Homo sapiens: one gene and its partners. The protein of the gene in region 3 purifies or fractionates together with the protein of the main gene of each other region. This does not show direct contact. Each region holds a gene or a part of one and is shown on either strand. Other genes may lie near its edges. The genes, in order: SS18, PFKL, DPF3, DCX, CSNK2A2, PHF10 and DNAJB4.

Region 1 (4,206 bases), on a different chromosome or scaffold from region 3:
CAGGTTGGCTAAATGCTATAAGGAACAAATAAAGAAAATATAAGTTACTGGCCTTCCAATTTCTCCTACACTTAACTGTAACTCCGTAACTATTGTTAGGAGAAATTCTTTCTGTTTTTTTTTTTTTTGTTTTTTTTTTTTGATGGAGTCTCACTCTGTCGCCAGGCTGGGGTGCAGTGGCGTGATTTCGGCTCACTGCAACCTCCGCCTCCTGGGTTCAAGTGATTCTCCTGCCTCAGCCTCCTGAGTAGCTGGGATTACAGACGTGCAATACCACGTCCAGCTAATTTTTTGTATTTTTAGTAGAGACGGGATTTCATCATGTTGGCCAGGATGGTCTCAATCTCTTGACCTCGTGATCCACCCGCCTTGGCCTCCCAAAGTGCTGGGATTACAGGCGTGAGCCACCGCGCCTGGCCTGGAGAAATTCTTAACTATTGTTTCGGAAGCTCTATAGTATTCTGAACAACCCAGGTCATAAGTGGTTGATAATAACTAGCTTATAAAAGAATATACTTCAGAAGGCCTTACACAAAACCAAAATGTCATGTTAACCATAACTGTACTGCTGCTCAAATGCTTCTTTGGCCTTAGGCTTCAATGTTACACAGAGAATTTAAGTCAAAATCCTAATTCAAAGTACCATCATAAAAAGTCACAAAACTCCTAACTAGCTAACCTGCACTATCACTACCTTTCCAGTTCTAAAAACAGTGTGTCCTGGTGAACTAAATGTGGACTTGGCAAGAAGCTTTCTCTTGACTACAATATGACTACAAACTGAAAAGCAGTGATGTCTTTATTCCTACCTCCATACTGGATGTGTGCCATATATGTTGCAAGCCTTAGCAGGAAATAGGAGACAGCCACTGAAACACCACTGCCCTCCTATATGATCAGTCACACCTCAATCTTCTATAAGCCAGGCTACCTTACCTCTTTTGCTCTGTGCTCTCTTGTTTCCTTACTGCACCCATCATCCTTGGACACCAATGCTATCAATCAACACAATCGGCTACAGAAAACAGTATCCTAAAGATGCCAATTACTAATTTTAATAATTGTTCTGTTATTTTATTTCCATTACTGCTAGTTGTATAATGTCTTCTTTATCAATGAAAATAACTTTTGTCTTAGAAGGTAAAAATATTCTGATACCTAATGTAGATAATATTCTACCAAAAATTACGGCCATGGGTTGATGCTACTGTTACAAAAACAAAATAGTGTAAAGATACTTGTATGATTAAAATTTCAAACCAGCCAAAGGTAACTAAATCAGCATCCAATGTCTTAAAACATATCAACCTAGTGACCCTACACTTAAAATTGACAAATAGAAAAGAGAATGGCTCAGTGTATAAATAATGTAAGGAAGTTTACATTATTTTTCAGCCTTTAATTTTTGCTTTAAAATCAATTCCAATATTTATGTTATGCTATAAACCTATGTATTAAAAAAATTTAGATTCAGCTTCAATATCAATAAGGAAATACTAAATACACCAGCACTTCAGAGACTGTTTTCTTTCCCCATGTGTTTTTCCCAGTGATACTGTTTCTGAGATCAATCAATATTTAAGTAAATAAAAACTCAGGGAAATGTTATAATATCTTTTTTAAACAGACTTTAATTCTTAAGCCATGGTGCAACGCCTTTTTTTCCAAAAAGCTTCTAAAGCCAACTGTATTGCAGTTTCAGACAGACTAAATTTAGCCAGTTCTGTTCATCAGAGGAATGGTGTGTGTCAGCTACATCAAAGCCCAAGGGCAGCCTGATAAACACTGAATACAGGTCACGTAGCTCTGTAGCTAACAAACTCTAAGAGAGCTTGTACTCGGGGGCATTCAAAGCAGTTTTGTCATCAACAATCTAGTATCCCTTGAGCCCCCATGTCGTTTCAGTTGCTAAGCAACTCTGGTGTTAATGTCTTAGAGGAGAAAAACTTACCAGGCATCTGGCCGTTCATCTGGTTCTGCATGTGCGGTGCAGGAGGACCCCCACCTACCATTCCATCTGAAGGCATGTTGTGAGAGCGTGGAGGTGGGGGAGGGCCGCTCTGATTCATCCCTCCAGGACCCATAGGCATATTCTGTGTGGGTGGCTGAAAGAAGACAGTTTAGTAAAACAAGAGAAACAGACTAATATACGAAAGATGCATAGGGTAAAAGAGTTGCTTATGTTACTAAATTGCAGTAAGAACAAAAACACAAATGCATTTCGAATTCTTCTAATGCATTTTCATCATGAACATAGTTAATAACCCCCAAAACTTTAAAGCATATTTACTTTATAAAATCTCAGTAGTGAAAATTAAAATGTTAACATTCTATACAAAAAATTCTCATTTATTTATATATTAAGCATTTCTAATGTGTCTATTATTATCTAAATTATGTGAAAAAAATTAAATGTCCTTTCATTATTGATGTATTGGATACACTTATTAATGATGGATTTTACCTAAAAATGTACAGTAACAAAAAATGATGAAAGGACTCTAAGTCCCAAAATGTGCCATATTTTACACTATTTCGGGGTGGAGGATAGTGGCAGCAGAGGAATGTTTTAAAACATGAAGACAACAGTTCAACATTTTTGTGCCGACTACTGCTATAGATTGGAAACATTACTGATGGCCTCCAAGGGTACAGAGACAGCTGCCTCAAAAGGATGCCCTTGGCAAATTTCCTAATGCAATTTTGAAGAAAACCACTGACTAACCTTCAGAGTTCACAAAAGGGCAAAAGGAAAAACAGATATGAGGTGGTCTGCCACACCTGGGTCCCTTCTTAGGGATATTTTGGTGGAGAAAGCAAACGGTTAGTTTCGCTCCAATCCCCCATTTTTAATCTTGTAGGAGGAGAGGGAGGCATTATTCTTTACTTCGATGTTCTAAATGTAATGTCCATTCCTGTATTATCAGTTGTTCTCTTCCTCCTACATTTAAAAATGGCCAGTTACTGTATGCCTTTCCATTTTGTGAACACAATTCTCTTTGGCACACTTAATAGATACACATTGTTATTTGGCCATCACATTTAAATACTCAAACCTCCAAACAGTTAATAATCACTAACATTTACAGAAATAAACAAGTCTACTCTAATAGCACACATTTTAAAATCAGAATTTTAATTTCTTCACAACTAAATCCAGATGAATGCTCTTATTTTCTCTTAAATTCTCATATTATTTCTCCAACTTGTATTCTTTAAACACTTAAAAACCTTGTTCAGTTTTCACCAAAACAAACAAAAAAACAAACAAAAAACACTAATTTGAGTCATATTATCTAACTTTTAATCATCCTTATTTATCATCCTTCAAACCTGGCTACCTTAACCCTCTTCTGTCTGAAAACAGAAATCCTCCTTCCTCTATTCTTGTCCAAATTTTCTGTTAAAAATTCATGTTCTCACTCTTAATAGTGAGGTCATTTTCTTGTAATTCAACTAATAAAACATCATTACTGTTACCACCATGCTAGAATAACTTGTATCAAACTAACCCTCAGCTAAATAAAACTCATAAAATCTAGACAAAAAGTAAAAACTGTTTGAAGCCACTAAAGAGTGACTTACACAAAGAGGAACAGAAGGGGCTACAACTCCTGAAAGAACGGAAGCATATAAGACCAGCTCCACAATTATCTTGGCTTTTTCCTTGAGTTTGCTGAGTAACAGGGAAATACAGCTCAAGTAGAAAGTGCAGTCCAATTGGACTAAGGAAAAAAAAGAGTCAGAATTTTTGACTATCAAAGAGCTGGAAACTAAAGAATAAATTTCCAGAGAGAAAGGACCACAAGAGGGGAAACATTCAAGAAAACTAGTCGAAATAGCAGGTAGGAGGCTAAAGAGCTCAGCAGAGATTCCAGCTGCTGCTCACTGATATGGAGACAAAGACTGGAGTGTAGGCCCCACCAAGTTAGAGGAGCCTTCATAAATAACTCCAACTCTCTGTTGAGACTACAGAAGGGCCAGCTACTCCTTAAGAGTAAGGTCGAAATTGAAATAGATCAGCCCTAAAAAGTCTTATAACCAACCTTTAATAGATTCAAGGTAACCTCCTAGTACTTCACATACCAAAGGAAAACTTAATTCTCTTTGGAGCAAAGTAACACAAACTAGAGCTTCTATAATTGTTCAACCACAAGGTCTAACACTCTTAAAAATTGCAAGGCTTTCTAAAAAACAAAAATAAAT
Region 2 (4,527 bases), on a different chromosome or scaffold from region 3:
ACAACTGTCCACTCCTGGGCCTGGCCCCAGGATGGCCCAGCTCAGAATGAACTAGAAGGCCACTAGGTGTGGGCCCCTCCACCCCAGCTCGAGTTAAGCAATCTGGAGGCCTCCGGCACTAGGGCCAACACAGTGAGGGGCTCTTGGGAATATCAAGGTGCCCGAGGGCAAGAGGGTCCCCAGCCCCTTCACCAGGTCCCTAGGCCACCCCACTGGCCTGAGCTCAACCAGGAGACTGCCCAGGGGCCCTCAAAGTGGCCCTTAGGCCCCTCCAAGCCAGGGTCTCCCTTGAGACACCTCCTGTGTCCCAAAACCACATCCCCAGGGTGGCACTGCGGGCAGGAAGCAGCCCTCTTGGGCAAGCACCTCCCACGTTCATGATGCAGAGCGCAGGCTTCGACGCTGAGGTTAACAGGCATCCTGCAAGCAGGGCGTCCACCACCCCGTAGCCGCCTGCAGGACTCAGCCCTAGCCCCTGGTGGGCGCAGCTCTGCGCTGCCTTCTTTTCCCCTCTTGCGTGTCCACCATCAATGTCTCCTGGATACTGGCTCAAGCCAGCCACCAGCCTGCAGGTTGGAGACCCCCACTCAGGCTGAGGTTGGGGAGACAGAGGAGTGAGGCTGTACCCTTCTGCCCCCAGGGGAGGACCAGGAGGGGCTCAGGTCACCCTGGTGGCCCCCAGGGAGTCCTGGAGAGCACCTGTGGCCTCTCAGGGCACATGTCCCTTTGACCTGGCCCAGGCACTGGCCAGAGGGCCCTCCACCCCTGGGGCTGCTGCCCACTGGGCTGGCCGCTCGGTGCTGCTCCCCCCTCTCTCTGAGGAGTTCTGCAGGCTGTGCTCTCCGGAGACCGATGCACCCCACAGTCAGGGTGATTTTATTTCTAGAAAAGGTGACAGGTGCTGCACGTGGGCAGGAGCAGGTCACAGTGAGGCAGGGCCAGGGGCATCCCCCTCTCAACACAACCTAGGCGCCAGCAGCCTACCGGCCAGGTAGAGCAAGGGCTGGCCCATGTAGTGAGCCCAGCATGGGGAGACGCTGAGGGCCCATGGGGCGCCAAAGCCAGGGGGCAGCAGCCTCCAAACACCGACAGCGCCACGTCCCCTGGGCAGGAAGGTGGATGCCCCAGGGCACTCTGTCCTCCTGCTGGAGGGCCTGGCAGGCTGGTCTCAAGACACCAGCCCGAGGGAGGCCTGGCAGGTGGCCAGGGATAGAGGCAGGGGATGGGCTGAGCAGGGACGCAGCCCCCACCTGCCTGCAGGCTCCAGACACAACAGCCCAGGCCCCATCTGAGCCCTGGCGCTGCGCTGGCATGGGTGGGGGCTGGGGAGGGGCGTGGGCATGGCTGGCCTCAGAAGCCCTTGTCCATGCTCAGGGTGCGGCGGGTCACGTGCTCCAGCTCCCCTGACACGTAGGCGGCCATACTGATGCGGTATTGTGCCAGCATCTTCAGCATGAGCCGCAGGCTCAGCCACCACTGCTCCCGTGGCATGCGGTGCCTGTGCAGGACGGGGATGGGAGGATGATGGGGAGTCAGGGGTCAGGGCAGCTCTTCAGCCACGTCCCCAGCCCCCCCACCCCCCCCGACCCTGCAGCCTGTGCATGCCCCTCTGTCTGAACATCTCGGTATCCGTGGAGCTGGGACAGGTCTGGGGTCCCCATCCCTCGGAGGCACAGCACAGAGTCAGCCTCAGCCGCCCTCAAGCGTGCCCACTCCTGGCTACCCGCTGTGCCCCCATGCCCACCCGAAAGGATTGCCCAGTGTTGTGCTCAGAAGACTTGGGCATGGTCCCTGCTCTCCACGGCCTGGCGGGGACCTGGGCATGGGGGCCCAGGAGGCCTTGCGGGGTCAGGGTGCCAGTGGGGCTGGGCCTGGCACACCTGCCTCAGGGAAGGTCTGGGCCACCCCTCAGCCCCACCCGCCTCCACGAGGCTTTGGTGGAACTCACTCGAAATCAGTGTCTTTCTTGAGCTCAGTGACGGGGCTGAAGGCCACCGCCTTCTTCTTCAGGCCGATCACGCAGGCCGAGTCTGGGGCATTGGCGAACACCCGTCCTGCAAACAGAGGCACGTGGCAGCCCTCCATGGTGAGGCCCTGCCCCAGGGAGCCAGGGGAGGGCAAAGTGAGGCCTCGGGTCGCACCCACCACCTACCCTTGCGGTAAACCTCGCGCAGCTTCTCCGACAACCACAGCATGGCCTTCACCCCCAGCTTGGTCCCATAGTTCCGGTCAAAGGGGGTTGGAGCGCCACCCTGGAAACAGGTGAGGCCCGGTTCCCTGGACTCCCCTGGGCTGCCTGGGCCAAGGCCAACGCCAGTGCAGACAGGATCCCCACGGGGAGCCTCCCAGGCAGCTTGTGAACACCCATTCCTTCCAACCCGTGCACCGTTCCCGTCTGTTCCCGATCGAGGACCCTGCCTGCTCTCTCCAGCTCCAAGTCCAGGCCAGAAGCTGCCTCCCGAGGCCGGCAGTCGGCTGCCCCTGGCCAAGTCAAGTGACTCCTGGGCCCTGCATCGGCAGCCAGCGGCCCCACCTCGGGCCCCATCACCTCGGGCCCCATGCCCAGCCACCCTGACTCCCCTCCCTGGCTCAGAAAACCCCAGGACGCGGGCTTCCTGCAGGGCCACCATAAGGCAGGGAGCATGCGGGGATCTAGGTGAGGGGTTCGGCGGAAGTGGCCGCGGGAGGCCTGGCAGGGGTGGGGAGCTCGGCTCAGCATGTGAATGCCCTGGCTCGGGCCCCGGCTCCAGCCCCAGCCCCACCCCTTCTTGAAATGAGACCTCACCTAGATACAGGCCTCGGTCCCCTCACTGGGGAAGGGCACACGTGCCCGAGGGCCTGCCGGGAGTGCCCGTGGGTGCCCGTGAGGGCTGGGACCCCTGGGGCCGGGGACAGATGGTGGCAGGAAAGAGGGGCAGGCCTCTCAGAGCCTCACCCCTGCCCCACACCTGCTGCAGGTGGCCCAGGACATTGGTCCTGCAGTCGAAGACGCCCTTGCCCTCTGATGAGTACAGGTTGTACAGGAACTCCGTGGTGTAGTAGTCATGGCACTTCTCGTTCCTGAGAGGGGCAGCAGGGCCTGAGTCGGCGGGAACGAGTTCAGGTCTCCCCCCGATCCTGAGTCCCCGCTGGGCCAGGCCTGGGAGAGGGAGTGGCAGCTCCCAGGAAAGCCGCCCTGGCCCACCCTCTCCAAGGACCCCTCCTGCCTTCTCCTGCCCAGCCGCTCCTCAGCAGCCCCACCCCAGCCCCGAGAGTTGGACGCGCAGCTGTGGCCAGGGACCCACGGCAGCCTCACCGCAGCACCAGGCCCCTCTGAATGTCTGTCTTCATCTTCTCCGTCATGTGCTCCACGTTGACCTGCGGGAGGGGCGGACACGGATGAGCCGGAGGACTGTGGGGAGGGAATTCCAGGCTGACCGGCGATCCGGGGCCAGCAGGAGCACTGGGCTACGCGTCCCACCTGCCCGGGCCCTGCCCTGCGCTGGCCGGCCTGAGTGTCTGGGGCCCAGGCTGGCATGCCGGCAGGTCTGCCGCAGCAGGGGCTGGGCTGGGCTCACCTTTAAGTCGTGGATGTTGAAAGGGTCCTCGAAGACGTAGGCGGCGTCGGCCCCCACAGCAATGCCAGTCACGGTGGCCAGGTAGCCACAGTAACCCCCCATGGTCTCCACGATGAACACACGGCGCTTGGTCCCCGAGGCAGACTGTTTGATGCGGTCACAGCTCTGGGGGACAAGGGGGGGTCGGGGGTCCTCCACGTGCCCACCCTTCCCTGTAGGCCGTCGGCATGGCTACCCTGCAGGGAGCCCTGTGTCTCCAAAGCCAGCCTGGGGCTGACGCACCCAGACAGCCAGCAGCACCAGGCTTGGGCCCACCTCCCACCTGGGCCCCACAGGACCAGGGGTTCTCAACCAGGCGACCCCACCCCCCAGGGCACAGTGGACAGCAGCCTGCACACACACTGGCTGTGAGTGGGCAGGGGTGTCCCTGGCACCCTTGGACAGAGGCCAGGCGCTGCTCTTAGACTACCCAGCACTGGGGCGCAGGGACATTCCCGCCTCAGTCTCCCCATCTGAGCTCATCACAGTAGCGAGGAACAACGCAGGGCCCCCCTGGACCTGGAAGTGGCTATGGCAGGGAGCTGAGCCCCTTCACCCGGGCCTGTGCCCCACAAACCCCAACCCTGGCAGCCCTCCCAGGTGCTCACCACACACTATCCCCTCCAGCAGCCTCCGTAGGCTCAGCCCCACCCCACAAGGGCCTGGGCATGGCAGGCCGGTGTCCAGGAGCCCCGTACCTCCATGGCGGCATTTACAGCAGTGTCGGAGCCCAGGCTGAAGTCGGTGCCAGGGACGTTGTTGCTGATGGTGGCTGGGATGACACACATGACGATGCAGAGCTCCTCGTAGCGCCCGCGAGCCTCCACCAGCTGCAGCACCCCTTCATAGGCCTGCAGCAGTAGGGACGGGGCAGGTCAAGGGCAGCACCGAGGCCAGGGTGGGCCGGGGACAGGCTCTGCCGGCGGCCGCC
Region 3 (4,206 bases):
GCTTCTCTTACGTTTTCTAAATTATGTTTGATGGTTGAAGTAAAAATTATAACACTGGTATGGTTTTCAATGTATGTAAAGGAAATGCTTAAGACAACTATATTATAAAGGGAGGAGGGTAAAAGGATTTAAATAATGAGTGTTGGGTGGTAATAGAATAGTTTTGTATCTTGATTGTAGAAGTGGTTACACAAATCTAGACATGTGATAAAATGGCATAAAGCTACATATACACATTTTACCAATGTCAGTTTTTTGGTTTTGATATTGTAAGATGTATTAATCTTGGAGGAAATTGGATGAAGAAGATAGGGGATCTCTATTATATTTGCAACTGCAAATTGCAAATACAGTCACAATTGCAATTATTAATTATTTCAAGATAAAAGTTGATTTAATAAAGAAGAAATTATATGAATCCCCTCCCCACTCAAAAAGCAAACCCTGATAAGTGAAAGCAAAATGAAACAAATAAATCCAACTGTGTATTGAGTTAGTGGCACAATCACACAGAGGAACTATCTCAGTGACCTTAAAGGAGAGTAATTTGGCTGCACATGTTTAATGGAATATACCCTAAGGACAAAAAGACTTGCAAAAAAAAGAAAATATCTTAAACCTTTTTCAGTAATCTTATTGTTAATAGTCATATTGTTTGTTCTGATACTGTGTGTGAGTGTCTGTGTGTGTGTGTGTGTGTGTGTGTGTGTGTGTGTGTGTAAAATAAAGCAAATAAGTAATTACATCAATATCATTTCTAGGATTTTTTGGTGTAGGAGAAAGGAGATACAGAATTAAGATACTTAAGTAAAAACTGTTTAAATCTAAATTGAATGGGATGTATCAACATAATTTCATAATGTATTTTCTCTTAAAAAGAAAAAGAAAAAAACAAATGAATACTATTTCTTAGTTCTAGTCACTGATAAGGCCTAGAAACAATGACCAAGCCAGGAGCAATGAACAGCACTGCGGTCTCTAAGTAACTTTTCCTACAAACAGGAGCCAGGATTTCTTCAAGAAATAGCTGATTTCAGTCCTGGAGAGGAGGAAGTGTACAGGATGAGCTTGAAATATTTCATCCTAATATTAGGATGGCAAGAAGGCCATCAGAAACTACTGGGGTTGTTTCAAAACACCAGCACTGGGCCGGGCACGGTGGCTTACGCCTGTAATCCCAGAACTTTGGGAGGCCGAGGCAGGCGGATCATGAGGTCAAGAGATCAAGACAATCCTGGCCAACATGGTGAAACCCCATCTCTGCTAAAAATACAAAAATTAGCTGGGTGTGGTGGCATGTGCCTGTAGTCCCAGCTACTCGGGAGGCTGAGGCAGGAGAATCGCTTGAACCCGGGAGGCAGAGGTTGCAGTGAGCCGAGATCATGCCACTGCACTCCAGCCTGGCTACTGAGTGAGACTCCATCTCAAAAAAAAAAAAAAAAAAAAACACATCAGCACTGGCCAGAATCCTGAATGGCCAGAGATGAGGCAAGATAAGCCTCATAAGAATAATAGCTACACTGGATTAAAATACATCAAATATGTTTAAATCTGTGAGTTCCTGGTGGTATTCAAAAAAATAATTATTATTATATTGATCGTCTTTGGAGAATGCTAGGGAACCAACTCATTATTTTGAAAACTGGTAAATAGAGGGGAAAAAAGTCATTTATCCTGCCTTTCATATGTGAACTGTATCTCACAATAACTAAAATTTTAATGAGGGAATGTTTTTCTTTATAGAAGTTGTAGAGCTAACAAATGAAGATATAATGATAGTCCTGGATTGAATATTAACTTTTTGCAACCCTTAATGGGATAAAGAATCTAGGCAATTATCATGAAGGGCTGCTAACATCAGTAAAAGAGGTAACCAGACTGTATGAGCCTCTTGATGAAAGTACACACTACCACTCAGGAGTTGTTCTTACCAAAAAAAAATGGAACCTGAATAAATCTCTAGACCTAACTACCAATTCACAGTAATAACACCATGGGAACGCAACCAAATCCTTCTGGGAAACCCTACAGCGTAAGCAACCCAGTGTCTTCAACAAGTAACATGCAAGGAGGAAAGAGAGAGAGGCAGAGACAGAGAGAAACCCAGAGATGTTAAAAGACACATTAACCAGTTGCAATGTAGGGTTCCCATTTGGATCCTGATTTAAACTACAGGGGGAAAAATGAATGTTGGCCAAATATTTGATGATATTAAAGTCTTATTGCTAATTATTTGAGCTCTGATAGTGATTGTGAGTGTGTTTGTTTGTTTAAGTTCTTTACCATTTAGAGATACATAACAAAATATTTACAGATGAAATCACGTGCTTTTGTGGATTTGCTTCAAAATAAAATGAGGTCAGGGAGAAAAGTAAGGAGTGCGTATAGATGAAACACGATTGACCATGAGTTGAACATTGTTGAAGCAGGGCTACATGGGGATGTGTTTTACTATTGTCTTCAGTTTTATATGAAGGTGAAATTTTTCCAAATGAAACATTTTTAAAAACATATCCAGGCAGAGCCAGAAAAATCACATTCCTGTAGCTGTCTCCCTAATAAAAAGGTCTTTATTCTGTTCTTTGCAGCCTAGAAGACTAGTGTCACTGTAGCTGTAGTAATAACAGTAATATCAATAATAATAGGCCAGGTGCAGTGGCTCACGCCTGTAATCCCAGCACTATGGGAGGCCCAGGCAGGCAGATCATGAGATCAGGAGTTCGAGACAGCCTGACCAACATGGTGAAACCCCGTCTCTACTAAAAATACAAAAACTAGCTGGGTGTGGTGGCGCACGCCTGTAATCCCAGCGACTCAGGAGGCTGAAGCATGAGAATCACTTGAACCCGGGAGGCGGTGAGTCGAGATCGCACCACTGCACTCCAGCCTGGGCAACACAGCAAGAGTCCATCTCAAAAAAAAAAAAATAACAATAATAATAATAATACCCAGCATTTTGGAAGCACATACTTGCTATGTGCTAAACTCATTTAAGAGTTTTTATAAATTTTCTCATTTAATTCAGACGAAATCTTATGTGGTAAGTACTATTATTATTCACATTTTACAGATGAGGAACCTGAGGGACAGAAGTTTGGTGACAAAGGTAAGCCTCACACCCAGATCTAATGGCAGATTTCCGGCTTGTAACCAACACCCAAAGGTAAAAGATGAAGATTGCTGTCATGTCCTCAGTCTTGCCTTCTTTGGGATAAACACCTTTAGCTCTTTCACTCCCCACCCCACCCCACCCCTGCCACATGGCTTCAATGCCCCACACCATCCTTGTCACATTCCTTGAAACACCTGCCAGGAGCCATAAAAGTAGCTGAGCTTCTTTAAGGTATCTCAGAGGCCCATGTGCAGCTTGCCCCACCCCGATCCTACCCAGGCTGCCTGGTTTCCCAGACAAGCTGCGGTCCTCCTCCCTCCAGGCTGGGAGCCTGCACATGCGCATGTCCCAGGAGTGGCGCAGCTCACCTGGGCCTCGGTGCCTCTTCTCCATCCAGATGTAGCAGTTGTTCTGGGCCACCCCAGTCTGTGAGTCCAGGAAGGGAAGACGCACGCTGCGCTCTGCACACAGCCGTGAGTTGTAACTCCGGCAGTGCTCAATGGCTTCCTTGTAGAACTGGTCCCCGAGCCTGCCAGAGTCAGAGAGTGAAGGGGTGAGGCCAGGGAAGACTGAAACACACCCAGAGGGAAACACACCCAGAGGGAAACACACCTCCCTGGAAAGACTGAAGACCTCCCAGTTATGAAGACCAAGGCAATGAGCACCAAGAGCCTTGCCAATGAGCAGAATGCAACTCAATGTCAGGTCTTGACTAGATTTTATTTTCTATCCCAAATCCACCAGGCAACTTAGAAACTCCTTTAACAAAGAGCATGGGCTTCCAAGGATGAATCACCAGTAAGAGAGAGCTGTCCATGTTCTAGGAAGCATGAGGTCCCACTCCAGAAGGGAAGTAGCTCTGGAACAACCTTCTGCATGGAATCTAGAGGACATCACACTTCTAGAACCTCCTCACTCATATTAGCTACATTTTATTCTCAGAGGTCACCAGCAAAGGCACTCTAGGTGAACCCAAATCACCAGCAAAGATACTCAGTTTTCCATTACAACAGAAGAGAAACACTCCATATAAACAAAAACTAGGACAGAAAAAACATTCTATAAAAGTAGGGAAATTGCAGGAAGAAGGGGGT
Region 4 (4,206 bases), on a different chromosome or scaffold from region 3:
AACCAGGTCATCCTTTGCACAGAGTATATGGCCAAGTATGGAATATTGAAATGTGAAATGTGTGTGCATATGTTGAATGTTTATATGTGTGTATAAGTGTGTCCTCTACTCCTTATGCTACACTAGGTAGAGAAACTGTCTAAATAACAACCAGTACATATAAACACCTTAGCTTTTGCTTGAAAAATACTCTCATGTTTCTACCACTCACCCTTCATCTTTCCATCCTCTCAAAGGATGCACATAAGATCTGTGTATTCAGGGTCATCTTCACCAGTGCTCACCCTTGGCTGCCACAAGTAATGAGGTAAAGAAGTGAGAATACATTATACAGCCTGATTTATGGATTGGAAGGATCTAGTGTAATTTTCACATTTACCTTGGGCTAGAGGAAATGACTAATATCGCAAAAGAAATGCAGGGATCAGAGGCAAGAGGAGGGGACTGGACACCTGGGACTATGAGCTGAAGAAAATAGGAAGAGAGATAGGCTCAGCCTGGGGAAGAGAATACTGGAAAAGGTTGAATTCGTTGAGTAAAACACATTAGCCTCAAGGTATCTAGAAGTTCATTGAGAGGTTGAGCTGCAGAAACAGTGTGATTTAATCAGGCTTAAGTCATCGGTAATAACCCTAAATAAATAAATAAACCCTAGCCAGTGCACAGAAAGCATTAAACACAATTATAGTCTGATGGCTCTCCTTTGGTCTCAGCAGGAGAACTGCATTCAGAAACACCAGGTTGATAATTCACTCCCTTTGCAAATATTTATTGCTTTGCCATAGCACCAAATCCTTTAAGACATGTTAATGAATAAATTTCTCAGTAATGCTAAGAGAAGTTTCAGTCAAAATCTCTAGTGTACCTTTGAGGACATTTATGTGTGTGTGTATGTGTGTGTGTGTGTGCGTGGTGTGTGTGTGTGTGTGTGTGTGTGTGTGTGTGTGTGTGCGGAGGGGGAGGGTAAGTGGCATCCAACATAAGCAAAGTGACTTCCAAAGCTGCCCTCAGTCCCAGAGTTCTATCTTGACAGGGGGACAAAGGGATGGTTTTAAGTGAGGATAGGCACCCTTACCCACTTGGTGCATACATGGACACCCAGGATGAGATGGTCAATACCTCAGCCAAGAGAAGCTCTGATTTCTTTGACTCCCTTGCTGGTTAATTCAACCCAACCCAAGTAATTATAGGCTGGGGTCTTTAATTTTTGACTTAAAAGGATGAAGGAAGGGGCCCTTTTAGTGTCTCCATATATTCACAGCCAATAACCCCCATAACCCTAGAAATGGTCTCTTGACTTAGCAGTTCACCAGATTCACTGGCACCTTGCAGGAGGTCACTGCCTTTGAGTCAGATGTTTTCCATAACTTGTCATGTACTTTAAAACTGTCAGACAAATGGTGGTGTGGAAATGTGTGAAGCTATATATTTATGATTTCACTCATCCAGTCTCCTCTGGAGAGTCAGCTGTGTAGCCCTATTAGGACTTTGGACTTTTTTGCTCCCATCTCTTAAACCTCTTAAGCCTCTGGAGTATGAGTATGATTAACCGTCTCCAGATGAAAATGAACATGATGACTGACAGCTATAGTATCATATAGCACCCAAGAACTTTCCAGAGGGCCCAGCCTCAGCCAAATCTATGTTGAGCACCTTCCAGTGGTACATTTTAGTCACTCCACTCTCTCGTTGGGCTGAATATGGAGTAATGGAAAAAGCGCAGCTGATGTGATGTCAGTCAGGATGGGGTCCCCAACACTTCCTAGTTGTGCACTCTAACCTCCCTTGGCTTCAGTTTCTTCTTTGCAAAGCAAGGGTGATAATAAGAATACCTATCTTGTGGGGTTGTTGTGGGGCACAAATCAGATGATGGATAAAAAGTGTTCAACCCATGGCCAGGTGCGACGGCTCATGCCTGTCATCCTGACACTTTGGGAGGCTGAGGCAGGTGGATCGCTTGAGATCAGAAGTTCAAGAGCAGCCTGGACAACATGGTGAAACCCCATCTCTACTAAAAATACAAAAATTAGCTGGGCGTGGTGGCACATGCCTATAATCCCAGCTACTAGGGAGGCTGAGGAAGGAGAATCGCTTGAACCTGGGAGGCAGAGGGTGCAGTGAGCTGAGATCGCACCACTGCACTCTACCCTGGGTGACGGAGAGAGTGAGATTCCGTCTTAAAATAAAATAAAATAAAATAAAATAAAATAAAATAAAATAAAATGCTGATCCCAGAGCCTGGAACATAGTAAGCACTTGATAAATTTCTGTTATTATTAAGCCCCTAATCTTACGGAATAGAAGCGAGAACAAGAAGGAAAGAGCAAAGAGGAAAAGAGGAAAAAATTGCTGAGAGAAAGAGACTAAAAAGAGGAATAGAAGCTGAAGAGGAAAAAAAAGAGAAAGTATCAAGGGCAACCATCTAGGAACTGAGCTGTGATTATGATATGACATGAGCACTGCTGGGGGCCTGTGATTCAAGGATAAGATTTCCTGCTGGTTGGAAGGAGGCTTCCAGTTGTGGCAAATGCCAAATGTAGGAGATTTATGCTAACACCCAGTAAAGCTGCTGCTGCCTCTGCAGAGGCCCGCTGAGAGCAGGATATTTATCGTCGTCAAGAGTGATGACTTAGGAGTCACACAGACCTGGATTCAAATCTCAACTAGGCACTTAAAAGCTGTGTGACCTCAGGGAAATCACTTAATGTCTCTGAGTCTCAGCTTTGCCTTCTCTAAAGCAAAGATAATGCACTAGGTGACACCTGAGTCCCTTCTAGGTCCTAGAGTCTATAGGGAGGAATCTTCTCTTTTCCTTCTCAAACAGGCTTCAGAAAACAAAGCTGTTAGGATAATTAAATGTTAAGAAAATAGCTGCCCACCTCCAAGGACTCTTCACTTCTGCTAGAAAGACATCAAATGCTCTTCTTTGCTAGACTAAGACTTCCTTGTCCTGATTTTGCCAGCATTTTCAATGTCTGCTGCCAGAGCTCAGTGCCTCCTGCACTTCCTGCTGCCTGGCACTTGGAGCTGGATGAGGTGTGTCGCACCTTTACACAGTTGGGTTCCCATCCTGCCACAGCTTCCAAGGGCTATTTCCTACCAGCTGGGGGCCTAGAGGGAAAGCTGGCTTCACAGCCAAGCAGGGTGCAAATTCGCTGGAACTAAAAACCTGCTTTAGGGTGAGGGGATAAGGAATGAAATCATGGAAGCACAGCTGAAAGGGCAGAAATGAAACAAGCTGTGGGCTGGAGATGATCTAATGTCTACCTCCCTTCTCTTTAAGAAGGCTGCATTTTCAAAAGCATTTTATATATATTTGTATCTTCTCAGTGCAAAAGCAAGCTTCTGCCTGGGTTTTCTCCTCTTCTCCAGGGCTTCCTGACTCAAGAAGGAATATATTAAATGACACTTTACTGTATTATATTAAAATATTAAATGACATTTGATTATCATATCTATTAGCAATGCATCCCTCCCAGGTATCTTAAAATTCTTGTGTTTGACAATGTACTTGCTTTAGTAGTTAGAGAATAAATTAGTGAGAAGGTGGATTCATCTCAATGAAACATATGAGCTATGGTAAAAGAACTGGATCATAGCCAGTGTGACTACACAGCTCGGATTTTCTAAGACTGTTCCAATTGTAAATATTCTGTCCCATGGTCTGTGTAATAACTCTTGAACTTGTCTCAATTTGGGTTCAGAAAAGCTGGCTAGTCATAAATGATATCCCCAAGGTTGATCTGGATACTTACATACAAGAAAATGGGGAAAGAATTGGACCAGATATAAAGGGAAAGAGAAAGATTCTAAAAAAAATAAATAAAATAAAAAAATAATAAAAAAAACAAAGACATGACAAAAGGAAAACCCACCAGTGGATTTTATTCATTGACCTCCTTGGGATACAGCTAATGAGGACCATATCCTACATGGCTTCACTAAGACCCTCGGTGTACCCAAGGACTGTGGGAAAACTGACATCAATAACCTTTGATCCAAAATGCTTCCCTTGATACTTTCTGTATCTAGCAGAAAACCGTAGACAAGAGGCACTAGACAAAGGAGTGTCACAAGGCCAGAGTGATTATTAACCAATTATTTTTAAATTTCATTTATTTTTAGGCTAAAAATGTAATAATGTGGCCATTTGAAAACACAGTGTGTTCTATGCTCTATTATTCCTTTAAGATGTAAAAAGAAAAA
Region 5 (4,206 bases), on a different chromosome or scaffold from region 3:
GACCCAAGGACAAGAAGTTCACATGAATGCAAATTTCCAAACGGCCTTTAAAATAATACAACTTACGATAATAATCTTCTAGAGGTGGACCAGTACAGGGCATCACAATCTAATGACTAAAATCTAGTTTTATTAGACAAGGAGGTGCCTGACTTCTTCACAGATTCACTTTGGAAGTTTGGCATAGATGGCATTATCTGCCTCTACTTCTGCGGACCTGGTAAACACAAAATTCTGTGCGATCTTTATCTTGAAGAAAAGCTCATATGCAGACACTGAGTGATACTTAGTGGCTCAAGGATAGTATTCTTATCTAAGGATGCTATTTTTTTGGCATTCACCCCCAAATAAATAAGAACCAGAAAGCATTTGCTCACCTGGTCATAGTTGTCCTGTCCATGGAAGAATGGTTCCCTTCGAAAGATCATGCTTGCTAACATACAGCCCAAACTCCACATGTCCAAGCTATAATCATACATCTGAGGCAATAAGGACAACGCATTAGCCAAGGGTATTAGAAATCCATTTTTCTGATATAAATTTCTTTTTTAGACGAGATTGGGCGTGTTCAGGGTGGTATGGCCATAGATAATTTATTTAAAAAAAATTTTTTTTAACTTCCTGGCTCCTAGAAATGATCTGAATTTCTAGTCTTCATTTAACCTTTGCAGATATTTTAGATTTAAAAACTTCTCTGTCCCCCCAAAAAACTAGCTGAGAAAAAACTAAAATCAGCATTTTAGGGTGAAATAATGGCTGGGTTTTGAGTGTATTCAAACTGACTAGATCAACAGCAAACCAGAAAAGCCCTAAGCAAGTATAAATAACCCAGAATAGCTCTGCTAACAAGTTTACCTGATAGTCCACGAGGAGCTCTGGTCCCTTGAAGTACCTTGAGGCTACACGAACATTGTACTCCTGAGCAGGATGATAGAATTCTGCCAGACCCCAATCTATCAGTCGCAGCTACAAATAGGACAGAAAAAAACATGTGAAAGGAGTGTTTCTAGACGCCTATGCCTTAGAACAAGGCCACATCACATTAGGTAACAATCATTTGGCCACACAAAAAATGTGAGCAGGTGCACTGGCTTAAAAATTACATTTTCAGCAATCGTGCAAGAGGTCATTTTTAGAGCAGAACACTTGAAATGCTTTTTGAAAAAATTTTAAATTATCCTGGTTCATCCCTCTCTCTAGATCAACAGAGCTCAACCTTTTTTTCTGCCCACATTCAGAAACTGTAGGCAGTTACACTTGGTAACACATTCTCCCATCATTCATAGCTTTTCGTTATAAGCTCCAGGCGTCAGTGAAAGGGCTGGGGACACACATCCCACTCCAGGACTGAAGCATTGCTCTAATGATTTATTCGTCTAATACTAGATGATCCATTTACTCACTGATTAGGGCCAACAGAGTTGGATATCAAAAATAGGAGGGACCCAAGTGTTCTTTTAAGGCCAGGCAGATTGGTCTGCGGGTCATCAAGAAATGAAGCAGAAACCACCAGCTGTAATTTCTTTCTGAGGCCCTCCAGAAAACTATGACCAAAATAAACAAGTGACTATAGTTAGTTACTATAGTTAAACCGTCTACTTTCCTTGTGTACTACACTATACAAAGTAGAAATCAACAATGGAGATGGGAGAAATCACAGTAACGAAAGTTTGCCAAAAAACCCACCACGGGTCTACAGAAACCATCATGGCACTGGACAGCTTTTTGGTCTGCTCTAAGCCTTTTAATCAAGCTTGTTGCTGCCTGGCTGTAATGGTACCTTTTTCTGTTGGTGATCTATCATGACATTGTGAGGTTTCACATCCCTGTGCATGATTCCCTTGCTGTGGCAGTAATCCAGAGCCTATTAGGTAAGAAAGCACAGATAATAGTAAGCAACCCCTCTACCATCCCCCAACGCAAGCATAGTCTTATTGTTTGTGACACCTTGACTTGAATACAGTCCCCCAACGGGCAGCTTGCTGCCTGTAATGAAAGAGAAAAAAAGCGTGCTTCAGAAGGCACCCCTTGCTCTCTCTGCACACTACAGCTGGTAGAAAGGGGGTATGAAGGGAATGGCAAGGGCTATGAGGAAGATTTCTTTTTTTTTTTTTTGAGATGGAGTCTTGCTCTGTCGCCCAGGCTGGAGTGCAGTGGTGCAATCTCGGCTCACTGCAAGCTCTGCCTCCCGGGTTCACGCCCTTCTCCTGCCTCAGCCTCCCGAGTAGCTAGGACTACAAGTGCCTGCCACTACGCCCAGCTAATTTTCTGTATTTTTAGTAGAGACAGGGTTTCACCGTGTTAGCCAGGATGGTTTCAATCTCCTGACCTCGTGATCCGCCAGCCTCGGCCTCCCAAGGTACTGGGATTACAGGTGTGAGCCACTGTGCCCAGCCGAGGAAGATTTCTTTAAAAGAGGGGGTGATGAGGCCAGGCACAGTGACTCATGCCTGTAATCCTAGCACTTTGGGAGGCCGAGGCAGGTGGATCACTTGAGGTCAGGAGTTCGAGACTAGCCTGGGCAACACGGCTATACTAAAAATACAAAAGTTAGCTGGGCGTGGTGGTGCGTGCCTGTAATCCCAGCCACTCGACTGGGCTGAGGCTGGAGAACTGCTTGAACCTGGGAGGTGGAGGCTGCAGTGAGCTGAGATGGTGCCACTGCACTCCAGCCTGGGCAAGAAAGGCGGGCAGTGGGGAGGGGGGTGTGTGTGTGGGATGATAAACCAGACTTTGGAACCTCACTGGAGTCACCTCTCATAATGGTTCAAAGGACAGACCAGCATCTATGTGGACATGAAGAATGACATTCAAATACATCTTTCAGTATGGCTTATTTTGTACATAAGGGTCCCACGTGGGTTTTCTAGATGACCAAGTATTAGTATTTTCCTTAATATAATCCCTGAGCCAGCTAGCCTTTAAGACTTATCATTATAAGGCCAGGCATGGTGCTCATGCCTGTAATCCCAGAACTTTCGGAGGCAGGCAGATCACTTCAGGTCAGGAGTTCAAGACCAGCCTGGCCAACATGGCGAAACTCCACCTCTACTAAAAATACAAAAAATTAGCCAGGCAAGGTGGTGGGCACCTCTAGTCCCAGCTACTTGTGGGGCTAAGGCACGAGAATTGCCTGAACCTGAGAGGCGGAGGTTGCAGTGAGCCGAGATGGCACCATTGCACTTCAGCCTGGGCAACAAAGCGGGTCTCAAAAAAAAAACAATTATCATTACATATTATTCCAAGGGAGAAAATTGCTTTGTTTAAGATGATTGATATGCAGATAAGATTTTATGTATATAATGGTTTTTCACAAATTTAAAAAGCTGTGCAACCATTACCACAATCCAGTTTTAGAACATCTCCATCACTCCTAAAATTTTTCTTGAGCTTGTCTGTAGTCAATCCCCTTTCCTAACTTCTCCCAACCCCTCCGTGCCCTGCCCACAACCACTGACCTGCTATTTGCTGGTATAGATTTGCCTTTTCTGTACATTCATAATATGAAATCATACATGTATAGTGCTTTGTCTACCTTCTTTCCTTCAGTATACTGTTTCTGAGATTCATCCAAGTTGTTTTTCCTTGCTGAGTAGTATTCCACTACTAGCTGATGGACATTTGGGTTGTTTCCACTCATGCTTTCATTTCCCTTGGGTAGATTCCTAGGGGTGGAAGTGCTGGGTTGTATGCTAAATTTGTGTTTAAACTTTTAAGAAACTGCCTAATTATCTTCCAAAGTGGCTGCGTCACTTTTACTCCCACCAGCAACCTGAGGGTTCAAGTTTCTCCACATTCTCATCAACACCTGTCATTGTTCAACTTTTTGATTATAGCTTTGCTGGTGGGTGTAAAGTGGTATCTCCATGTGGTTTTGATTTTTATTTCCATAATGAGTGATGAAGTGGAACTTCTTTTTATGTGTCTACCGGCCATTCTAAATCTTCTTTGGAGAAATGCTGATTCAAATCTTTCAATCATTTATTAGATTGTTAAGCTCCATTTTTTTAATGTAAAAATTTGCTTCTAAATCTCCCTTGCCTAACATAATAACTATCTTCATAAACTTCAAATTCAGGACCTTTGGCTAATCTTAACAAGCACCTGAATCCTACACAAGGTCAATGAAATACTCTTCAAGTAGAATCCCTGTCCTCTACCTACCACTAGAGCCCCCCTCCAGTTTTAACAACCAAAAATGGTTCC
Region 6 (4,206 bases), on a different chromosome or scaffold from region 3:
CTGTATGTATATTTTTATACCCTGCTCCCCCCAACAAAAGGATAGTGTCACATGCTCAAACCATTTAAGTCTTGCAGTGTAGTTACCCTCTGTTGTTACTGCTACATTCTAAACATAAGGTTCTCATTGTGTGTTCCTATACCTAAATAAAAAACAGCTAGGAAGTGCACTTCTATAATCCAAATTCTGGTTCAGTTATGATCATATCTGTACCTGCCATAATATACAGCAGAATGCTCTCTCTTAATCCATCAAAACTAAGAAATCTCTTGGTTATGGTACCTGTACTAAATGTAAAAGATATACTTATTTAATACTAATAGTTTAAGTTAGATACTGGCATAGTAAATACTCTAATATCTTTCACTAAAGTCAGGGAAGTAACCAAACAATATTAAATTCTAAAAACAGAACTCCTCACAGGAGATTCTTTACAAAACAAAAGCCAAAAGGAGTAAAACACAAGGGTAGTCATTCACATTCTAGAGCAATTCAAGTTCTACAATCATTAAAATATACATTAAACACCTATGATAAAAGGGACACCAAAAAATTCTAGGTTTATTTCTAAGTTTAAATCATAATGATTTGTTAAATCACTTAGTTTTTCTTACCCAACAGCCTTCATCTTGATGAAAAGAGGGAAACATGAGAGAAGGGGAAGAGAGACAGCTTTGTAGCATTTTCTACGATGAATGCTGCAGCTCGATATACAAAGCATCTGCCCTCTCTAAGAAGCCACAGTGCTGGCATCCAGGACTTTACACAGCAGATAACAACTGTGGCTTAGAGAAGCCAGTCTCAAGTGGATTGCACAGTTGAGGGAGGGGTTAATGTGCAGCACTCTCCACAAGACCAATGGAGCACACTCCTATGTGTGTCTGGTTTAGACAATCAGTTCTACTTCAAATAACTGCAACATCATCAGAGTATCACTATTGACAAGAAAACTGAAATACTCATCCTAATAGCTCTCAGCATCTCAAATAAAAGGCTCACAGTACACTTACTTTTCTACTTGAAAAACAGCCAAAGATAAGACTTTCATGGTAGCAATAATATAGTATAGATTTTAATTATTGTATTTATAGGCCGGAATCCTAATAATTATGCTTTAAATTTCAGGTTAATGTAACCTAAACAATACTGTTCTATGAATTAAGGGCAAGCACTAGTGAATCTTATTAAGCAAAGCATCAGATACATTACTTCCTTGAATCTCGTACTTTTTATATATAAACTATGACCTTTAGCTTGAAGTACCCTAATATTTAGGCACATCTTGGTTTATTAATACTTTTTATAAAGAGGTTAACTTTTAATAAGCATGTTCACATTAATGTATGATGACTAGATACTGGTTGTTCCCATCTTTGAAATACCTGAAACATTTTTAGGTACTAAAAATGTTCACAGATTATGTAAAATATAAATTTTGCATATCCTACTTGAGTACTATTAAGTTCAGTTAATCCATATGATTTCTTGTATACTAAATCAATGATAGTGTTGAATAGCTGATTTCCAGCCTGTATTAAAACATCTATTTCAATATTCTCTCTTTTTAACCCATGATCAATCAAGCTTACTGTTGCAAAGATCTACTTAGCACTCAAGAGTTAACAGGACACTGTGCTTTGAGCGGCCACTTCCATTTAAAGCTCTTAGCAGACCAGTAGAACACACTCATTCATGTATACTGCTTCTGAAATTTCATCTTTGGAGCTCACTTGCTTTCAGTTATTAAGCATTAATTTATATAAAGAAATTACATAAGCTATATATGTAAAAACAAGTACAAAAATCACATAGCTGCAGCCTATTGCAGCCACCCTTGGAAGCCAACCCTTGCTGAATTAAGCTTAAAATTTGCTTGCTATAGGCTACAAAAAAAAAAAAGAATTTTTAAGTTAATTACATAAAAGCATTTCCTAATAAAATATGAAATACACTAACTTAATGTCGCTTTTTTTACTTGAAGAAAGGTAAATGAACATGTTAGAACGTGTTCTAGTTAGTTTGAGGGAAAGGTGACTTACTTCAGCCTGTTCTTGTGAATTATTTACCACAATCACAGTTCTGACATACAAGGTGTTTAACAATTTCACTTGGCAAAACTTTCTCATCAGCTTACTCTAAAATTTTCCTTCAATACACCTTCATAAGTGCAATAAAAGCATGTTCTAATACATTTCAGACCAAAAGAATCAAAAGGTAGTCTATTTTACTACCACCATCCCAAATATGAAACTGTACAGCTAATTCTTCCTTTTATGATATTCTTAAATCCCTATATGCAAATAAGGCTACTCATCTCTCACCTCACCTTTTCTTCAGAAGAAAAGGGAGGGGCAGACAGAGGGAGGAAAAGTTCAAAATATAATAATAGTTGCTGACAACCTACTCCTTTACTCTGAGGATAATCAGATCAACAAGTTAACAAGTATGTTTTAATTCTTGCCATAGAATCATATAGGCTCTTTACCAAGGTTATGCTAAAAATCACTACAATGTAAGTAACAGGTTTTATTATTTTCTATCCCAGAGTTAGCTAAATTTAGCATATGGATCAAATAATCCTTAGATTAAACCCAGATCTTTCTTAATGAAAGGCACTAAAAAAAATGCAACTTAGTCTAACAGTATATCCACTCATACTTTATAGCTCAGCAGCTTTAGCTACACTAAATGCTGGGGCATTTAAAATGCCAAATAATTATGATCTTTACTCCAAGGAAAGAAAATATAAACTTCTGCCTATGAAATAATGTTTTAAAAACCCATACTTGCCTGGTTATTCTTTCAAAGAAAAAAAAAGACTTATAAATTGTACATATACAGAAAACAGAAGGTAAACCATAGCCAAAAGTGACAGAAAAGCCACCAAGGAAATAAAGCAAAAAAGAAAGCAGCGGACAAAGGGCACACCATAGAAGAACAGCTAGTGAGGTACAGCAGGCAGAAGCTCCACAATCGTGAAAGTCAAGTTAAAATATTTCAGGGAGAGGCTGGTCAGTAAAGAAGCTGAGTCAGGGGCTTTTTTCTTCTACCTTGTACCCAGGAACTGACTTGGACAGTACAGAACGTTTGGGACCATCTTTTCTTGGAGTGGCAGCTTTGTCTTTTGATTTCTGTCTTCCCTGGAAAGAGTCCTCCTGGCTGTCAGGAGGGCTTTCCCCTTCAGATACATTGCCAGAGGAGCTGTCCTGGAGTTTAAAAGGCAAAAACAAAGATTCTTTGGAATTAAGACAAATTTGAGTCTGGATTTTGAAAACTATGGAAAATATTCAAAGAAAGTTTTAAAGCTTTATCATTTTAAAAATAAAAAGATCATTCTAAATGTAAGAAAGCTTTTTCCAGTGGAGACTAAAGTAAGTTATGTTAAAAATCATTCCTCCTTCTTCTAAGTATATTATATAAAACTGATTCCATATCAGTGCCTTCATCAACTTTGTTTTCTGACATAAGTCACAAAAACACAATTATCCGCTTCAGCTACTATTACGGCACACAGCTTCAACATCATTTTCCGTCACAAGGGAACATATTTGTTTCATACAAAAATATATTGTTACAAATAAGTGTGGGTATTTTCACTGAGTACTAAAAGTCATTAAGAAGGTCCTTCAGGAAAAATGAAGCGCTGCAGTTAGGAAAAAAAAAAAAAAGTCCTTCAAGTACACATTTGTGTTTTCACAATGTTAAACTATGCAGAGCCAATCCCTCAACTATCTACAACAGGATCTGAAATATTTTATATATTCAAGGTTTAAGACCTCAGTATCTGATCATTTAATTCTTCATTTTATAATTTAAAATGTTCTAATTAGAACTTTCATATAAATTACAAAAATTATAAATTAAAAAATTAGGTTATCTAGAGCCTCCCTGATAAACACACACTGACTAGAAACATGAATGTATCTACTTTATCTTTTTTCTGGGTGTCCACTTATATACATAAAGATACCGAGACTCACACATTACCCCCTACCTCATTGTGCCCTCATTTTTTAAAATACAAAACTGGATTACACTGTGTGTGTATGCATATGTGTATTTTGGTATTTTTTAAAAGCATTATGTGCATTTTCTCACAATCATTAAATATTCTTTGAACTGCATTTCTATCCTATAAATGTAATATAATATTACCCACTGTGGGCATTAAAATTTATTTGTAACTTCCAGCATAAAAAATACTGT
Region 7 (3,500 bases), on a different chromosome or scaffold from region 3:
TACAGCTCAAGTATACAAGATAATAATAGAGCAAACTGGGCCAGGTGCGGTGGCTCATGCCTATAGTCCCAGCACTTTGGGAGGCCGAGGTGGGCGGATTACTTGAGGTCAAGAGTTCAAGACGAGCCTGGCCAACATGGTGAAAACCTATCGCTACTAAAAATATGAAAATCAGCTGGGCATGGTGGCGGGCACCTGTAATCCCAGCTACTCAGGAACCTGAGGCAGGAGAATTACTTGAACCTGGGAGGTGGAGGCTGCAGTACTAGCTGAGATTGTGCCACTGCACTCCAGCATGGGTGACAGAGCGAGACTCCATCTCAAAAAAATAATAATAATAATAATAGAGCAAACTTGGGGAAGTGCATATACATTTTATGGGTAGACATCAGATTTAAAATGACTTATTTTAAGCTAAAGAGTTTGGACTTTATGGTAGAGGTTATATAGAGCAATTTAAGAATTTGAAGCAGGGAACTGCTATGACCATATTTGCAAAGTTACAATCCAATTTGAGAAATAGTACAAATAGGCCAGGCGTGGTGGCTCATGCCTGTAATCCTAGCACTTTGGGAGGCCAAGGCAAGTGGATCACCTGAGGTCAGGAATTCAAGACCAGCCTGGCCAACATGGTAAAACCCTGTGTCTACTAAAAATACAAAAATTAGCCAGGTGTGGTGGGGGGCGCCTGTAATCCCAGCTACTTAGGAGGCCGAGGCAAGAGAATCACTTGAACCCGGAGGCAGAGGTTGCAGTGAGCCGAGATTGCGCTGTGGGTGACAGAGCAAGACTCTGTCTCAAAAAAAAAAAAGAAATAGTGCAAATAAGAACTCAAATAATAATTGTATTAACATAGTAGCATTATAATTTATAAATGTATATATTTATATGCACTTATAAATGTATTTTTTATTAATATAAATGTATACAAATTTGTAGTGAATTATAAATTATTTTCTTCTAATCTTTTTTGGTATGCAATTATTACTCCATATTAACAAATTTAGAACAAACCCTATATACAAAGACTAATGTGTTGAGATTACCAATGCAGATCTCATAAACCACATTTGTAAAAGCAGCCTCATAGTACATAATCCAGTTAACACTTGACACTTTAATTATAAGTAACTAAAGTTAGAAAATATAATCACATCCATAAAAGAGGTATAATACTAGTACTATCTTAGAGGATTTTTATAGTAATTATTTTTAACGTATAATAGGCATTAAATAAATGTTAGCTATTATCTAGATACACTCCCTATGATCAACTACATAATTATTTGGTCTTAGGATTTTAGGTCCTACCAACTTACCTCTCGTAAACTAATTTTAGCAGTATAAATTATATTTGATCCATCCCTTTTAAATTTTGGATGATCTTTGTCTTTAATGATAAAAACAATGTCTGCTGGAATACTATTTGGTGTTTCATCTCCTTCTCTTGGAAAAGTAATTTTGGTGCCTTCTTTCCACCCTTTTTTAATCTCAATGGTAAGAATTTTGTCCTCAGATCTGTAACTCCTTCCATCAGCGTTTAGCCTTTTTCGAGAAATCTTCATCCGTTTGGTACAACCACTATATATCTCTTCAAGTGATACTCTAAGTTCATGAATAACTGGAGGATCTTGTTTGAGGCGGGATGGCCCCACAGAATTCCTGTCTCTTGGATATCCATTCATGCTGAAACCAAAGGCACTAAAAGGATCACCATCTATTTCCATTTCTTCAGAATCTCTACCACCACCCATTCGTCTTCCAAAGAAAATTTCAAAGGGGTTGGACCCTCCGAAAAATGCAGCAAATGTAGCATGAGGATCGCCATGAAAGGTGTACCGGAAGGTACCTCCTTGTCCATCAGTACCTCCTGCTCCTCCTTTCAACCCTAATTGAAGAGATAAGCATGATTAGAAAAAAGCTTGCAACTCTTAAAAGTTAAACTTTCAAAAACTGTATTGCTAATAAATTTTGGCTAACTTACATTAAAATGTATTAATATTGGCCAGAAATGCCACTTTACTAAATACAGAACAGCTATAAAACTCTTGATGATTACATCCTAAGTTAAATTGTTAAGTTTTCAAATTCTTCCTCCAAATCAGCATTTTTGTTTGTTTGTGTTTTTGAGACAGAGTTTCGCTCTTGTTTGCCCAGGCTGGAGTGCAATGGCGCAATCTTGGCTCACCGCAACCTCCGCCTCCCAGGTTCAAACAATTCTCCTGCCTCAGCCTCCCGAGTAGCTGGGATTACAGGCATGTGCCACCACGCCCGGCTAATTTTGTATTTTTAGTAGAGACGAGGTTTCTTCATGTTGGTCAGGCTGGTCTCGAACTCCCAACCTCAGGTGATCTGCCTGCCTTGGCCTCCCAAAGTGCTGAAATTACAAGTGTGAGCCACTGCTTCCGGCCAAATCAGCATCTCTAATATTTATTCCTGATTCTTTGTTCCACGGGTAAGTAAGAAAAATAAAATAAGGCCGGGCGCAGAGGCTCATGCCTGTAATCCCAACACTTTGGGAGGCCGAGGCAAGCAGATCATGAGGTCAGGAGTTTGAGACCAGCCTGGCCAACACAGTGAAACCCCGCCTCCACTAAAAATACAAAAAATTAGCCAGGTGTGGTGGCAGGTGCCTGTAATACTAGCTACTCAGGAGGCTGAGGCAGGAGAATCACTTGAACCTGGGAGGCAGAAGTTGCAGCGAGCTGAGATCGCACCACTGCACACCAGCCCGGGCAACAGTGTGAGACTCTGTCTCAAAAAAAAAAAAAAAAAAAAAGAAAAGAAAAGAAAAAGAAAATAAAACTGGGAACTCCTTATAAACTACTGATCTGGCATGCTGAAGTATATAAATTATATAAGTATCTACTTATAAATATATAAGTTTTTAAAAGATGTCAGTTGGAAGGTCTTCAGCAATCAACACAAAGTGCAGAACTTAAATCTTTAATTTTTATTACAATCAAACAATATATATAACATTTAAAAATATAAATATATTAATAAAATATATAGCAAAATATAAAATACCATATTCATACTGTTTATATATAAATAAAATAGAAATATGTAAAAATATAATGTAATAAAAATACCATATTCATTCTAACTAGTTTTATTTCAGATCATCTTTTACTGTTTAGGAATTAAAATAGGGCCAGGTGCAGTGGCTCACACCTGTAATCCCAGCACTTTGGGAGGCCGAGTCGGGTGGATCACTTGAGATCAGGAGTTCGAGACCAGCCTGGTCTACATGGTGAAACCCCGTCTCTACTATAAATACAAAATTAGCTGGGCATGGTGGCACATGCCTATAATCCCAGCTACTTGGGAGGCTGAGGCAGGAGAATCGCTTGAACCTGGGAGGCAGAGGTTACAGTGAGCCAAGACTGCACCATTGCACTCCGGCCTGGGCAACAGGAGCAAAACTCCATCTCAAAAAAAAAAAAAAAAGAATTAAAATAGAACTCTGTGTCAGAGAGTGAAAAAAATTCTAATAA

Evidence for each region.
Region 1: the proteins of DPF3 (region 3) and SS18 purify together in Homo sapiens (affinity purification with mass spectrometry; 4 studies listed by BioGRID and IntAct, with this or other methods). This does not show direct contact.
Region 2: the proteins of DPF3 (region 3) and PFKL purify together in Homo sapiens (affinity purification with mass spectrometry, with the first as the bait; one study listed by BioGRID). This does not show direct contact.
Region 4: the proteins of DPF3 (region 3) and DCX purify together in Homo sapiens (affinity purification with mass spectrometry; 2 studies listed by BioGRID and IntAct, with this or other methods). This does not show direct contact.
Region 5: the proteins of DPF3 (region 3) and CSNK2A2 purify together in Homo sapiens (affinity purification with mass spectrometry, with the first as the bait; one study listed by BioGRID). This does not show direct contact.
Region 6: the proteins of DPF3 (region 3) and PHF10 purify together in Homo sapiens (affinity purification with mass spectrometry, with the first as the bait; one large-scale study listed by BioGRID). This does not show direct contact.
Region 7: the proteins of DPF3 (region 3) and DNAJB4 purify together in Homo sapiens (affinity purification with mass spectrometry, with the first as the bait; one study listed by BioGRID). This does not show direct contact.

Annotation. Positions count from the first base shown.
Region 1 is NC_000018.10:26,055,638-26,059,843, forward strand, and holds part of SS18 (protein SSXT), read right to left. Parts: intron 2,106-4,206; coding exon 1,952-2,105; intron 1-1,951. UniProt on the Homo sapiens protein: Appears to function synergistically with RBM14 as a transcriptional coactivator. Isoform 1 and isoform 2 function in nuclear receptor coactivation. Isoform 1 and isoform 2 function in general transcriptional coactivation.
Region 2 is NC_000021.9:44,323,686-44,328,212, reverse strand, and holds the end of PFKL (ATP-dependent 6-phosphofructokinase, liver type), read right to left. Parts: intron 4,448-4,527; coding exon 4,295-4,447; intron 3,723-4,294; coding exon 3,558-3,722; intron 3,358-3,557; coding exon 3,296-3,357; intron 3,061-3,295; coding exon 2,949-3,060; intron 2,253-2,948; coding exon 2,153-2,252; intron 2,055-2,152; coding exon 1,949-2,054; intron 1,499-1,948; coding exon 1,351-1,498; 3' UTR 840-1,350; downstream 1-839. UniProt on the Homo sapiens protein: Catalyzes the phosphorylation of D-fructose 6-phosphate to fructose 1,6-bisphosphate by ATP, the first committing step of glycolysis.
Region 3 is NC_000014.9:72,768,253-72,772,458, forward strand, and holds part of DPF3 (zinc finger protein DPF3), read right to left. Parts: intron 3,642-4,206; coding exon 3,481-3,641; intron 1-3,480. UniProt on the Homo sapiens protein: Belongs to the neuron-specific chromatin remodeling complex (nBAF complex).
Region 4 is NC_000023.11:111,401,871-111,406,076, forward strand, and holds part of DCX (neuronal migration protein doublecortin), read right to left. Parts: intron 1-4,206. UniProt on the Homo sapiens protein: Microtubule-associated protein required for initial steps of neuronal dispersion and cortex lamination during cerebral cortex development. May act by competing with the putative neuronal protein kinase DCLK1 in binding to a target protein.
Region 5 is NC_000016.10:58,166,830-58,171,035, forward strand, and holds part of CSNK2A2 (casein kinase II subunit alpha'), read right to left. Parts: exon of another isoform or gene 3,641-4,206; coding exon of another isoform or gene 3,536-3,640; intron 1,865-3,535; coding exon 1,781-1,864; intron 967-1,780; coding exon 856-966; intron 480-855; coding exon 378-479; intron 1-377.
Region 6 is NC_000006.12:169,707,186-169,711,391, forward strand, and holds part of PHF10 (PHD finger protein 10), read right to left. Parts: intron 3,207-4,206; coding exon 3,051-3,206; intron 1-3,050. UniProt on the Homo sapiens protein: Involved in transcription activity regulation by chromatin remodeling. Belongs to the neural progenitors-specific chromatin remodeling complex (npBAF complex) and is required for the proliferation of neural progenitors.
Region 7 is NC_000001.11:78,011,439-78,014,938, reverse strand, and holds part of DNAJB4 (dnaJ homolog subfamily B member 4), read right to left. Parts: intron 1,889-3,500; coding exon 1,320-1,888; intron 1-1,319. UniProt on the Homo sapiens protein: Probable chaperone. Stimulates ATP hydrolysis and the folding of unfolded proteins mediated by HSPA1A/B (in vitro).